3 separate regions of the Homo sapiens genome follow, and regions 2 and 3 are each linked to region 1. Evidence: fine-mapped expression QTL. A gene starts in region 1. Each other region holds a variant in brackets. All regions are shown on one strand. Distances are between the middles of the regions. Region 1 holds the start of CLXN (calaxin). Region 2 has its middle 31 kb from the start of CLXN. Region 3 has its middle 38 kb from the start of CLXN.

The links. PIP is the estimated chance that this variant, and not a neighbour inherited with it, causes the effect. A credible set is the group of variants that fine-mapping cannot tell apart.
Region 2: its variant is the best candidate, but not a certain one, in a credible set for the expression of CLXN in substantia nigra (GTEx, PIP 0.78).
Region 3: its variant is the best candidate, but not a certain one, in a credible set for the expression of CLXN in testis (GTEx, PIP 0.87).

What each region holds. Positions count from the first base shown.
Region 1 is chr8:48,733,311-48,737,552 of GRCh38, reverse strand. It overlaps CLXN (calaxin), which reads left to right and starts at 2,285. Exons shown (of 6, transcript NM_024593.4): 1 at 2,285-2,459. The coding sequence starts at 2,402. RefSeq lists an enhancer at 2,206-2,880.
Region 2 is chr8:48,701,700-48,705,941 of GRCh38, reverse strand. No RefSeq gene overlaps it. Among named protein-coding and RNA genes, the nearest start is that of CLXN, 31 kb to the left of the region's middle. The variant TGC/C (reference allele first, on the strand shown) is at 2,411.
Region 3 is chr8:48,771,045-48,775,286 of GRCh38, reverse strand. No RefSeq gene overlaps it. Among named protein-coding and RNA genes, the nearest start is that of CLXN, 38 kb to the right of the region's middle. The variant G/A (reference allele first, on the strand shown) is at 1,797.

The DNA.
Region 1 (4,242 bases):
ATAAGTGAGATTCACAAAACAATGCATTTGCATAGATAGATAGAAAGATAGATAGATAGATGATAGATAGATAGATAGATAGATAGATAGATAGATAGATAGATTGGTTGATTTTTTTGGCTAAAAGAACTGCATGGAAGAAAGAACTGGAGGATAAAAGAAGTGGAAGAGGAGGAGGTGACTTACAAAGTTTGCTCAACAGGTTAAGGAGTTTTGGCCCGGCATATTTTAATTTCAACAATCTGTGATATTGCCCCTACATCTTTTTATTATTTTTTTAACTTTAAGGGAACATGGCTGATGGGCTCTAGGCCTTAAACTCGTGAAGGAATAACTAATTAGCTTACCTATAGCAAGCACCCGGTGTATGCGATCTCCCCAGGCCACCAGAAATAACCACCAATGTGCTCACCAACAGCGCAGGCCTGCTCCCCAACACAGGCCTAGTACATCAGGTGGGGAGCCCACAGCGTCTCTTAGTAATTACTGACAACCACTCTTTCGGTTCCTTGTCTCTTGAAGTGAGCAGTGCAGCAATCTCTAGGAATTAAGTATTTGCTACAGCTCTGTGATCCAACAGAAATCAATAAGGTGTCACAGGTAAGTATAATTCAAATATGTCCAGTCTTTCCCTTTTGTTCTCTATGGTCTCAGGAATTTCACTCTTCTAGACAAGGGGATATGTAGAAACACTATTTAAAAATACTACTGTTACAAACTCATAATCACCATCAATTCATATCGGGTAACTGTTGTTAGGACATTTGCTTTAGGATAACACAGTCCATGCCTTTACCAAGCACCCTTTGCTCTAGTTTCAAACAGCATCCCAATCCTTCATTCCACAAACAAATGAAACAGTAAAGAAAAACCAGAGGCCTCGACATTGGAATTATTTCATTTGGGATTATTACTCATGGTTAGTAGAATTTTTCTGCCTTCAGTCTAAAAATGCCAGTATGTGTACAATAACATAGTTTGTCATTTTCCCCTCTGAAGTTAAACGAGCAGGCACTCTGGAGAATACTGTAGATTTGGTGATCCTGGCTGAGCCACCCCTTTTTATTGCTGCCTTAGCTGAAAGAGGATATCCCCTCTGTGATCAGGAAAAGCAGAAAGTCCTCCCACCCTGAAGATGTAAGGAATATCCTTTGTCTGCCGGCACAGAACTTGTCTTTCAAATAAGTAAAGGACCAAGGTTGCTGAGATATTTTCCGGAAAAGCAAGATTGGGCTGTACCCCACACCCAAGTGGTGTTGTCAGCCCGTTTTCATTGGGGGGAATGCCTATTTAAGCAGTATAAAAATTCCTCGTGGCTTTCCTCAGATTCCACAGACAACCTCCATCTTTTGGAAGTGAGATGAGGGCAGTGGGAAAAGAAAAAAACTACAGTCACAAGCCACATAGCGCCATTTAAGTCAACATCAGACAACATTAGGACAGTGGTCCCATAAGATGTAACACTGTACTGGAACACTGCACCTTCCCCAGAGTGCTTAGCACTCTGTTTTAGCTGCCTGCAGCATTCCGCGCTGTGACCTGCTGTGCAGGGGTGCAGCCCAGAAGCAATGGGTTGTACCATACAGCCTGGCGTGCAGTAGGCAAGGCCATCTAGGTTTGTGTCGGTGCACCGTGATGTGCACACAGTGATGAAATCTCCTAGTGACCTCGGAACGCGTCCCGCTCCTTAGGCAACCCGTGGCTGTATTCCAATTTCCCCTTGCTCTCAGAAACACAACTAAAAGCTCGAAGACCTCAGGTGACAGACTGCCTCCTGTTACCTCACCAAGACTGAAAACCTAAGCAGTGGCTCCGCCCAAAGAGCAAGCTTCTAGCCCTCTGACGGGAGGCCCGGCAAGATCGTCCTCTGGACAGCACCTTGCTATTTTGTGACGCTGCTCCAGCCCCCAAGATGTCCAAGATCTTGGGCCTTCCCTTGAGGCGTGACGCTCACGACCCGAAACACCTCTCATACAGCGTGCACACCACATTTCAGATTTTAATGATTTACACTGCAATCAAGCAAAGAGGCTGCGAACTCAAAAGCCAGCAACAACTGAACATTTAAACTCCAACGTCAACAGTCAGAATACAGCCCTCAAGGCGGCCAGCTGGGACCCTGCCGGCGGCACCGCGCACCGAGAACCCAGCGCGAGCAGTCGCTGAGCCGATGGGCGGGGCCCAGCTGTAGCTTTGGCTACGTCGCGGGCAGCCTGGGAGCCAATCCGCGGCGGGCTGAGCCGTTGCCTTGGCTACACCGTCTGTTAGGGCCGCGCACGAGATCAGTAACTGAGACCTCACCGCGTTGACCCAGCACCAGGGCTCGCGGGGGTCCCGCGAGGGTCTCGGTAGCCGCGCGCCCAGAGACCCCCGCCGCGGCCCGATTCTCTGAGCGCCAGACATGAACCGCAAGAAACTGCAGAAGCTGACGGACACCTTAACCAAAAATTGCAAGCATTGTAAGTAAGAATGTAGTGCTGGACAGGCCGAGGCTCCTGGACCGAGCCTGGGTCCCACCCCGTGCTAAGGTCCGCTGTTGTGCCTGCTTCCCGCCTGCTGGGACTCTGTGGGCTACCTACCGCCCCTCCACCCCGGCCCCTTAAGCAGAAGTCAGAGAGGGAATCCCGGGGTGCCAGCTCCTTGCGTTTGATCTTAGGAACCCAGGCCTCCGCCTCTGGTGCTACCTACACTCCCACACATGCATTTACTTGCTTCTCCAACCCTCTTCTTTTACCTGATAGAAACATGTGATGTTAGCCTCAATGAGGTGTAAAATAAATGCTAAAACCAACTGGTCTCAAGAAAAGTAGCACCACCAAGGTAGACCGTGCACTCACCCTGCTTTATAGCTCGCACATACACCCGCAGGTCCAAGTTCTGGAAGCTTACCAAGAGACCCATAGGAGAAAACGGTGCTCAACTTCTCAACATCTTTCGGAGAGATGAGTTGTGTCATCTCATCTGTGCCTCAGAACAATATTTGTTTGGAAACCAGAGTTCAGCACAACTAAACACGTGGTAAAGAATGGGTTCCCAACTTTAGACTCCCACTTTCCAGTGGCCCCTGGTGTTGAAAGATAAAGGAGACTTTGCAGGTGACAAGATGAGCCCTATTTGAAGGCACCTGCTCTAATCTCGCATTTGAAAGGGTGGTCCTAGAATTTCATAGGAAACTTTGAGTTTATATTCAGACTGAAAAACATAATTGCACTTTAGCAAGGAAGCCGTGGGTATGGTTTAGATGAGGAAGATAATTTCCTGTCGAGCAAACTTAGAAGTTGTGTGTGCTAATTGCAAAACTACTGGCCACTTGAAGAAACAGAAGCAACAATCCCCCAAATAACCGAGTCGCTCAAAAAAGAAGGAATAAACATGTTGATGTAGTTTTAGAGATTGTAAGATCTAGTGCATTCTAATTATCATTAGTATCTGATTTAATACCTGGTAAGAAATGCTCTCTTAGTGGATGGTGATATAAATGAATATTATGGTGTGTGTACGCATCTTAAAATGTTTAGGAAAAAAATCCTGTAATTTAAGATATTATTATGACTACTATACTCTGATGAGGGTTTTGTTCTGTTATTGTTTTTCTTAAAACACTTTCATTTCTGGGAGAATAGGTATTCTTCTAGTAAACATCTAGTAAACATTTTTGATAAATATTCAAAAACAATGCAATAGCTGCTATACACAATACTGATTTTGTCCCTTTCCGTAAGTTTGAATTTGATTTAGTCTCTGTTCGGTAAGTTTGAATGCATTGCAGACAATCATTCTGTGAACAATCAAAAGGTGAGTGTATATTTTTAAAGGTAAGTAAAAATATGGCAGGAAAAAGTCTGCTCTTGATTTTTTTGTTTACTAAAAAATTTTCAATGAGTCTTACAAACTTAGATGATTATTAGTTAAAGTCTATAGAAATAGTTATACGTCATGGACATTATAATAATTTTAAATTTTCTTTAACGGAAGAACTTTCCCCTAAAGTTAAATTTTGTTTTAGTTGCAAGACAATAAAGCTATCAAGATTCAATGGATAAATTTTGTAGAATCAAAGAAGAGTGAAAGATCTTAAGAGAACATCTAGTTCATGCACTGTTCTACAGATATGTTCTGCAGGACACATTCACAGCATTCCAAGAAGATGAAAACCTATTCTTGAATTTTCTTGTTTCATTTAGTATTGTATTCTAGAATTTAAGAAATGTTTAGCAATAAAAGTTTTCTTATGGCTAACCT
Region 2 (4,242 bases), 32 kb after region 1:
GAGCCGAGTGGGCTTGCCAGCTGGGAAGAGAGGAATTATCTACTTTGGAAGGCATGTCAGTACATCTAATATTAAAAAGAGATTTATCCCCACTGTGCCCATCAAGTGGACGGAGGCTTCCCTCACCGCCTTTCACCCACAAGTGCACTGCCACACATGGGTCTCTGACTGGAAAGTTTGGGGGCAGCACGGGGAGGGCCCAGGACTTGCCAGACCACCCCCCGCCATGTGTTCTCACGTCTGCATGCCATCGCCCCAGCATGGGTGCTGCACGGCGTGGCCCCTTCCTCCGTAATTTATGGCTTGCTGTGCACCTCATGCTGCCACTTAGTCCCTGAAGAAAACATTCCTCCCCCTAACACACATCCCCTTGTTTATTTCTGCCTCCCTCCTGGCTGTTTTTCTCCACATTGCCCCTGTTATGGGGCCCCAGCCACTCACACAGAGTTCTGGGCCTGCAGGGTTTGCCGGCTGAGAGGACATTAGTCTACATGGGTGAAACTCAGGCTCCCTCCCCACTGAAGTGCACTGTCACCACCTCCCTCCCTTTGCCAGCAGACATCCACTGACTAGACAATGGTCACTTAACTGCCTGTCACCTGTGCAGTGGACAGAGCATTCTCGTACCCTAGATGAAATGCACAGCCTGTGTGAAGAGGTCCAATAAAGCAGAAAACGAGATTTTTCACTCCTGTCACTGGAGAATACTTGGAGTATTTCAATCACTGCTATGGTCACAAAGTCAGTGGCACCTGCTCCACCACTACTAGCAAAACTTCCTCATTGTTCCAGTGCCAAGGAACAAATCACAGGGGCGAAGACTGCAGACCCTGGAGTCCAGCCTTGCGAGCCAGATGCAGCTCCCAGGGCAGAGGACGGGCCTCCTGCACCCACAGGGATGCCCCTCTTCTGCTCTCAGCCAGGCCCCTGCTGAGAGTTGTTTGCTGCCACTTACTTCTGAGTCAGCTTCTCCCTGGCTCTCTGAACAGGCTCATCTCTGCAGACATCTCTTAGAGCTTGAAAAAATTATATAAATCTTTCAAGATCCAGTAGCACACAACCTTTGGTTTTATAAAAAGCATACATGTTGGTTCTGATGAACGCTGGCCTTCTCATGTCAACAAATGCCTATTTCACCAAACGATGAGTTTCACCTCTCTTCTGAGATACGCACTAGTATAAACACAACATGACCCCATATATGTGAGATGGGTTTGCTTCTTGAAACACCATAATAAGGAAAGAAATTGACTGACAACAGACTGAATGAGGCAAGCAAGCTCTCACCCTGGCCTGCGGCCGGGAGGGAGAGGCGAAAAGGGCGGTGTTTCTCTCTCCTTTCATGGCCGCAGGATTCTAGAAAATCAAATAGCAGTCTGGGAGGGACAGCCTTGCTCCACAGAGTCTACTGAGAGATGGTGCAGTGGGGAGACAGAATCGCAGCAGGGCAGGATGTGGAGCAGGCCAGGGCCTGCACCAGCGCCCAGGTATGCGGCTGACAGGCAGGGCGCTGGCCCACGGCAGGTGCAGCACCGCCAGTGCCCGTGGCCCCAGGAAAAGAAAACCTGCAGGTGCCGTCAGGACATGTCCTGAGCCTCCGAAGCCACGCGCTTTTCTGAATAGCAGTCCTATGCTCATTGTCTGGCTGCAAGATGATGGTGTGCATTGTGGGGGGACAAGAGGGAGGGAGTGGTGTGTGGAGTCTCCTGCTCTGGTGGCTTTGATGACACACAGGGGCAGCTCCAGAGTGAGGGGCAGTGGGAGGAGGTGGGGCAGGCAGTGGAGATCCCAGGGTGCTGGTGTGGGCTGGCTGAGCCTGTGCCAGAGGAGGCGGGGTAGGGACTACTCTGCCAGTCCTGAGGCAGCCTCTCTTCCCCCAGGAGGGTGACACTGTCTCCTGATGTCTGGGAAAGTTAGACAGGGAGCCCTACACACCTTCAAATCCAGCCCTCGCTGCCTGCAACAGGCTTCAGTCCTTGGCCAGTATTTAATATTTCCCTCCATTATTTTGTGAAAAAAGGAAGACATGTTAAGCTCGCAACACTTTAGAAGATAAATGTGACATTAACCGTGCCATCACCACAGTTTGCTAGGGCAAGCCATGTCAGTGCGGTCTCAGGGAGGACCAGGTCTCACCTGTGCCCACAGAGGGGACTGCACATGGCTGGCCACAGTCATGCACCCCGATATCATGCCCTGCTGCATTTTTTTCTGTTTATGTTTCTCTTTTTTTCCCCTTCTATAGAACGTAAATCCATGAAAACATGGCCCTGGTCAGTCCTCTTCTGTGCTGTCTACCCATATGGTAGTGGGCACTCAGTCAATATTTGCTGAATGAGTGAAGGATTGAACCCCACGGCACAGCATTAGTGGAAAACTTATTTTGACCTGAATGTCAACGGAGTGTGTG[TGC/C]TCAAGGCAATGTTGTTTTTCAAGAAAGCAGATGTGACGCCATTGTATACCCAACAAATACAAATTGCGGGGCTTGGTAACTCTCTATGGCCTACAGCTCTGACAGCCTCTGATGTGCTGTGTGAAACCAAGAGCAGAAATGGATGTCTCCATTCTACTCATCCGTGCATGGCTGCAGTAGCAGCCAGTTCATTTTGGTCCTGTTTCATTTGGTATTACAAATGCCCCTGTAGGCTGGATGTGCTGGCTCACACCTGTGATGCCAGTACTTTGGGAGGCCGAGGCTGGAGGATTGCTTGAGACCAGGAGTTCGAGACCAGCCTGGGCAACATGGTGAAACCCTGTCTCACAGAAAAATGCAAAAATTAGCCAGGCACGGTGGCACTTGCCTATAATCCCAGCTACCCGGGAGGCTGAGGTGGGAGGATCACTGAGCCTAGGAGGTCGTGGCTGCAGTAAGCCGAGGCCGTAACGCTGCACTCCAGGCTGGGTGATAAAGCAAGACCTTTGGAGAACAAAAGGGGGTTAACTGCAGACACTCGTACACCTGGCAAAGTTACTGGAATAAGCATGTCTTTGCCTGGAGAACAGCAAGGGCTGATTCAATGCCTTTATTTGAACTCTGCATGTGGAATTTTATTACTTGGAATATATCCTCAAAAAAATGGAAGTAAAGTAAGCAGACTAAACTGAAGTGTATAATAAGTTTGGTTTGATTTAAATAGATTATTACATTGATAAGGTTAGAACAAGCTATGACAATGCATTAAGAAATAAACATCATTGTGAAACTTAAAAATTAAGCTATGAGATATTCTATGATTCCTAAGATGAGCCCCTGCAGGTATAGGTAACTGAAGGATTTCACTAGGGTGATGATTCTATTCATCTTCAGCCTCCTGGTAAACTTACAATGATGAGGGGTTTGAAACCTATAGGTTTTTAGCACTCGGCTAACCACAAAACCATAACTTTCAAAGGAGGTAAATGTGCAGGTCAACAGAATAGGAATTTATATGGTAAATGTTACACTGACTGAGAAACTCTCTCCCTTCCTCAGCAGACACTGTTATTCTTAGACAGGATAGGTTCTGAGCCAGTCAGGAGGTTAGGAGAGGGTGTTAGGGCAACTTGGTGCTTCTGAAAGGCTGTTGAGGTTTTTGGCACACACTACAACTCTCTGAAAGACAATGGATTTCTGGAGATCCTTTGAGTCACCTTTGCCATGATGCTGCAACCCTAGGCCTGTCCACACTCCCACACCTCCGTGTCTCTTGCAGGAATGGACTTCCTTCCCTTTTTCTCCCTTCTGCCTGGAAAATTTCTGCTCTCCCTCCCCAGTGAAGCCCTTCCAGCCTCTGCCAAGAAGTCTGGCCACCCTGAGTGTGTTGTCCAGGCATCTGTTACAGCCTGGGAGAGCATCACACTTATTATCAACTTTGATGTCATGAGGCCTGGGACTCACATTCCCCACAGTGCTCTTGTCTGGTGTATAATAAACCCGCATTAAACTGATGACAAATGAAGAGCATGCTCAGCTCAAACTCGTGATGCTAGAATCTCAGAAATTTCCCCATACATCCCCAGAATTCAGCTCTTCCTTTGCAAATGACAAATGTCCTGTAGCAAACCATCTGTGGGAGCCTTACAGTGCCAGGGCCTCTCAGCAAGCATGCACCCCATGGACCTGGCCGCCTTTGGAACGTGTTCCCCTCCACAATCTGCATCTTCATTATTTTAAACCTTGAACACCATCTCCTCAATTTCTTCCTCTCAAACTGCACTTTGTCTTCCATGTCATAATCGCCCCCACTACCTACTTCAGTCTTG
Region 3 (4,242 bases), 38 kb before region 1:
AGGACAAGAAAATATTTTTTAACTTTTTTATGCACACAAGGAATGAATGACTTAGTATTATTGAAAATATATGCAAAATTCAAACCTTTTTAAAGTGAGTTGGGAGGTTGTTCAAAGCAATTTGCTGTGTAGCCTTCGAGGAAGAAATGCATCAGTTTATTAAAAAATTATTACAGCCTCTACTTAGACATTGTAATAAGTATGGTAGTTGGTAGAGGGCTATATAGTCATTTTCTGATAATAAAATGAATACTCCAAAAAAATTATAATACCTATTGAGTTAGTTTGATATTTAAGATTATGTGATATCGTCAAAGTTCAAAAGAGCACAAATATACAGATCTCTTTTTTCTGGCATTTTTAGACAAATGCAGACAAACGTGAATATATCCTATTTTGCTAACCTTTTGACATGGATACAAAAGAAGAAAGAATTTTAAGAATTTATGCTAATTTTAAAAACGTAATCAATAAGTTGGCAAAAATGTTATGTGCTGATGGTCTGAAAGCTATAGCAGGAAGAAACACAAAGGCTACCGGTCCCATAAAAATCTTCAGAGTAATCGACTTCTCTGTATATAGAAAGATATTTTAAAACACCAACTGTAAAAATGATGGCATCTTTCAAGACACTATTGAATAATACTACACAAATTGTCCTTTTCATCATAGCTATGGTCTTTGAATGTTATACTTTTTATTTTCTAATGATCTTGTTTGTTAGTAATAGATCCTGTTGCTAAGAAGTTTGAAAACATTGAGAATGTAAAGTTTTATGATGTCTATGATGAAACATCACTTACTGAAAGCATTTCTTCAGGAAGACAATCAAATGAGATAGCTAGATTAGCTATAATAATAGAGCTAGGGTATATCAGCTATTCACTCTGTGCCAGGCACCACGCTAAATGCTTTAAGCTGGTCATTTCATTGCATAATCACAAAAGTCTAATGAGGTTGGGGGTCATGTATTCCCACTTTACAGATGAGGAAACAGAGGCTTTGATGGCTTCAGTCACCTTCCTGGCCAGCTGAAGCAGGAGGAAGCAGGGAGGGCTCACCTAGGGCTTTTTCTAACCCCCGCCCTCCACCCCTTGAACTCTGCCTTCCCGCAGCGCAGTGGCTCTGGTTCCGTGTTTGCCACAGTGCAGGCAGAGCAATCAAGGGTCACTGCATGTCACCTCTCTGTGAGGTGTGCCAAAAGTTATTTGTTAACTTTGTTAAGTAGTAGAGAATCGCCAAGTTCTGTAAATTAGAAAGTATGCAGTTCTCCCTGTGGTAAACTCACTCTCCTCTCCAGTGTGTTCCCACGTGCTTCTGAGCAGAAGTAGCAGAGCTGCAGCTGGCTGGATAGCACCTGCTGTGCAGCAGGAGTGATCCACAAGTATAAATCATACGTCCATGCGTGTCACCACAGAAAAACAGGCCACGCAAACACTGCTGGAAACCAGCAGGCAGGGTCCCAGGACAAACACTTCAGTGCCACAGAGAAAGTGCAGGTAAGCTCCCCTGGGGTGAGTTGTCAAAGGTCTGTCACCTGGACTTTGACAGGCTCTGAAGCACAGGTCACTCAGGTGTGAAATTCTACATGGATTCGGGCCGGGTGCGGTGGCTCATGCCTGTAATCCCAGCACTTTGGGAGGCAGAGGTAGGCGGATCATGAGGTCAGGAGATGGAGACTATCCTGGATAACACAGTGAACCCCGTCTCTACTAAAAATACAAAAAAAATTAGCAGGGCGCGGTAGCGGGCGCCTGTAGTCCCAGCTACTTGGGAGGCTGAGGCAGGAGAATGGC[G/A]TGAACCCGGGAGGCGGAGCTTGCAGTGAGCCTGAGCCGAGTTGGCGCCACTGCACTCCAGCCTGGGCGACAGACCGAGACTCCATCTCAAAAAAAATAAATTAATTAAATAAAAACAAAATAAAAAAAAGAAAGTCTACATGGATTCAACATGGGCCTTTTTATTAAATGCCAGTACAGCAGAACAAAATAACAATCTGCTATTCTACACAGCAGGTGGCAAACATAACGAAATCATGATGCTAGGAGATGGAACCCATGAAGAGGTTCAATAAGGGTAGGTACACTTCATGTGCGACTTTATTTAACCTATGTTATAGCACACTTTTCTTATTGTAAAATTGAACTATTATTTTCTTTCTTTTTTTTTCTTTCTTTTTTTTTTTTTTTTTTTGAGATGGAGTTTCCCTCTTGTTGCCCAGGCTAGAGTGTAATGGCGCGATCTCGGCTCACTACAACCTCTGCCTCCCGGGTTCAAGCGAGTCTCCTGCCTCAGCCTCCCCAGTAGCTGGGATTACAGGCACCTGCCACCACGCCTGGCTAATTTTTTTTTTTTTTAGTACAGACGGGGTTTCACCATGTTGACCAGGCAGGTGTCGAACTCCTGACCTCAGGTGATCCACCCACCTTGGCCTCCCAAAGTGCTGGGATTACAGGCCTGAGCCACCATGCCCAGCCATCATTCTCTAGATTCACTAAAAGTTATTTTTCAAATCTTTAAAGACATTCACAAATGTAATATATGGATTCTATAAGCATCTTTTAAAATAATGTGTGTGTGTATATATGTATGTATATATACCTATATATATACATACATATATGGATTTTCCCATGTCTCTTATGCCTTCTTTTTCTCTGATATATACATGTATGTATCTTCTGCCCCCTTCCCCAACTTCTGTCACTCTCCCTGCTGTTCAAATTACTTTCTCTGTTATTTGAATAGAAAGGTTTCTTTGTATAAAATTCTGAAGCGTTTATTTTGTCTTTCCTTGTGTATCTATGCCTTAACAATTTTCCTCTAACAAGTCGCTTTCTGATAACACTGCTGAGTATCATTTACATAATTAGGGTATTGATTAGAACTAATAGAGCAAAGGATGAAAGACAGCCATTTGTTACTTAAGGAGGAGGGGTGAAGAGTAAGGAAGATGGTAGTACCGATAATGTTGCCCGATTGGTAGCTTTCAGACAAGAAATAAGTTTTGACAGAAGAACTATCCAATGAGAGTGAAAATATACTCAATGTCCATCAACTACATATACATTTCACAGAGTTCATAATTTATTGAAAATATTCTCCTACCATAAAATAAACTTCAGAGAAACACAGTGAGCTTTCTTATGAATTAATCCTAATGCCTGAAGTCCTAGGAGCTGTGAAATAAAGAAAATAAATAAAATTATGTAAACACATAATATTGCTGAGCAACATGGCTTAGCCCTTAAACAACTTTTTCTTGTTTGAAAGATTTCAAAAAGAAACTACTGTGAAATTTATGTAGGTATTCACCCTATGGGTAGCGCTATGATATTTTAATGAACAATTAGACAGAATGGTGACTGAAGCCAATCACAGAGAGTCTTCAGGGCCATCCCTTCCTCCACTTCCTCATGGACAGGAACAGGAGCATGCACACACACACACAAGTGTGTGAATGCTGACTTAGCTAAGGTGGATCCTTGACAAATATTCTATTTATTTTTAAAAATCTAAATGTATTTATGCATTGATGAGAATTTAAAAATCTCTCTCTTGCTTCTCTTGGTTTGTAAAATCCAGTGCATGTTTTCAATATACAATCGGCACTATTTAGTTTAGACTGGCAGAGATACCCATAGGGACTGGAGGCACTGCCTACAAACCTAAGATGGGGAATCATTACAGATAAAATATGACTGGATCCAAACCCCTTCCCTAAGGGATGCTGAAGCCAAACCAAAACTGCTTTGAAGAGCATAATAAGGAAAAACTGGGTTAGCTTTGGGTTTTGCTGCTTTTAAATCATCATTAATCTGCAGTATCTGCCCTTCTGAATCCTTATAATAGCTAGGTGCTATAAGAGAAATGCCAGACCCACCAAAAGTTGACCAGCAAACACTTGTTGAGTGCCTACCACACACCATGTACAAACAAACCAACTAGCAACTCCTTGGGGGTCTCTGAAACAGGTAATGCTTGGAATCCTGGTTGCAACAACATGGAATATTCTGCTTAATTACAAATGCTGGTGTCAGGAAATGGTTTTTTCCACTTCTCCTATTCCTACAAGTTTCCTTTTTCTCCTACAGAAAGGAGTCTTGTAGCTTGGCACACTGCTTTGAGAAATCTGTGATCATACTTGTAAATAATTACCTATTTGCCCATCAAGGAACTCTTGTGTAGGAATCCACGGATGGTCAGTTCGCCCATCTGTAAACATGAAAGACGGATCACCCAAAG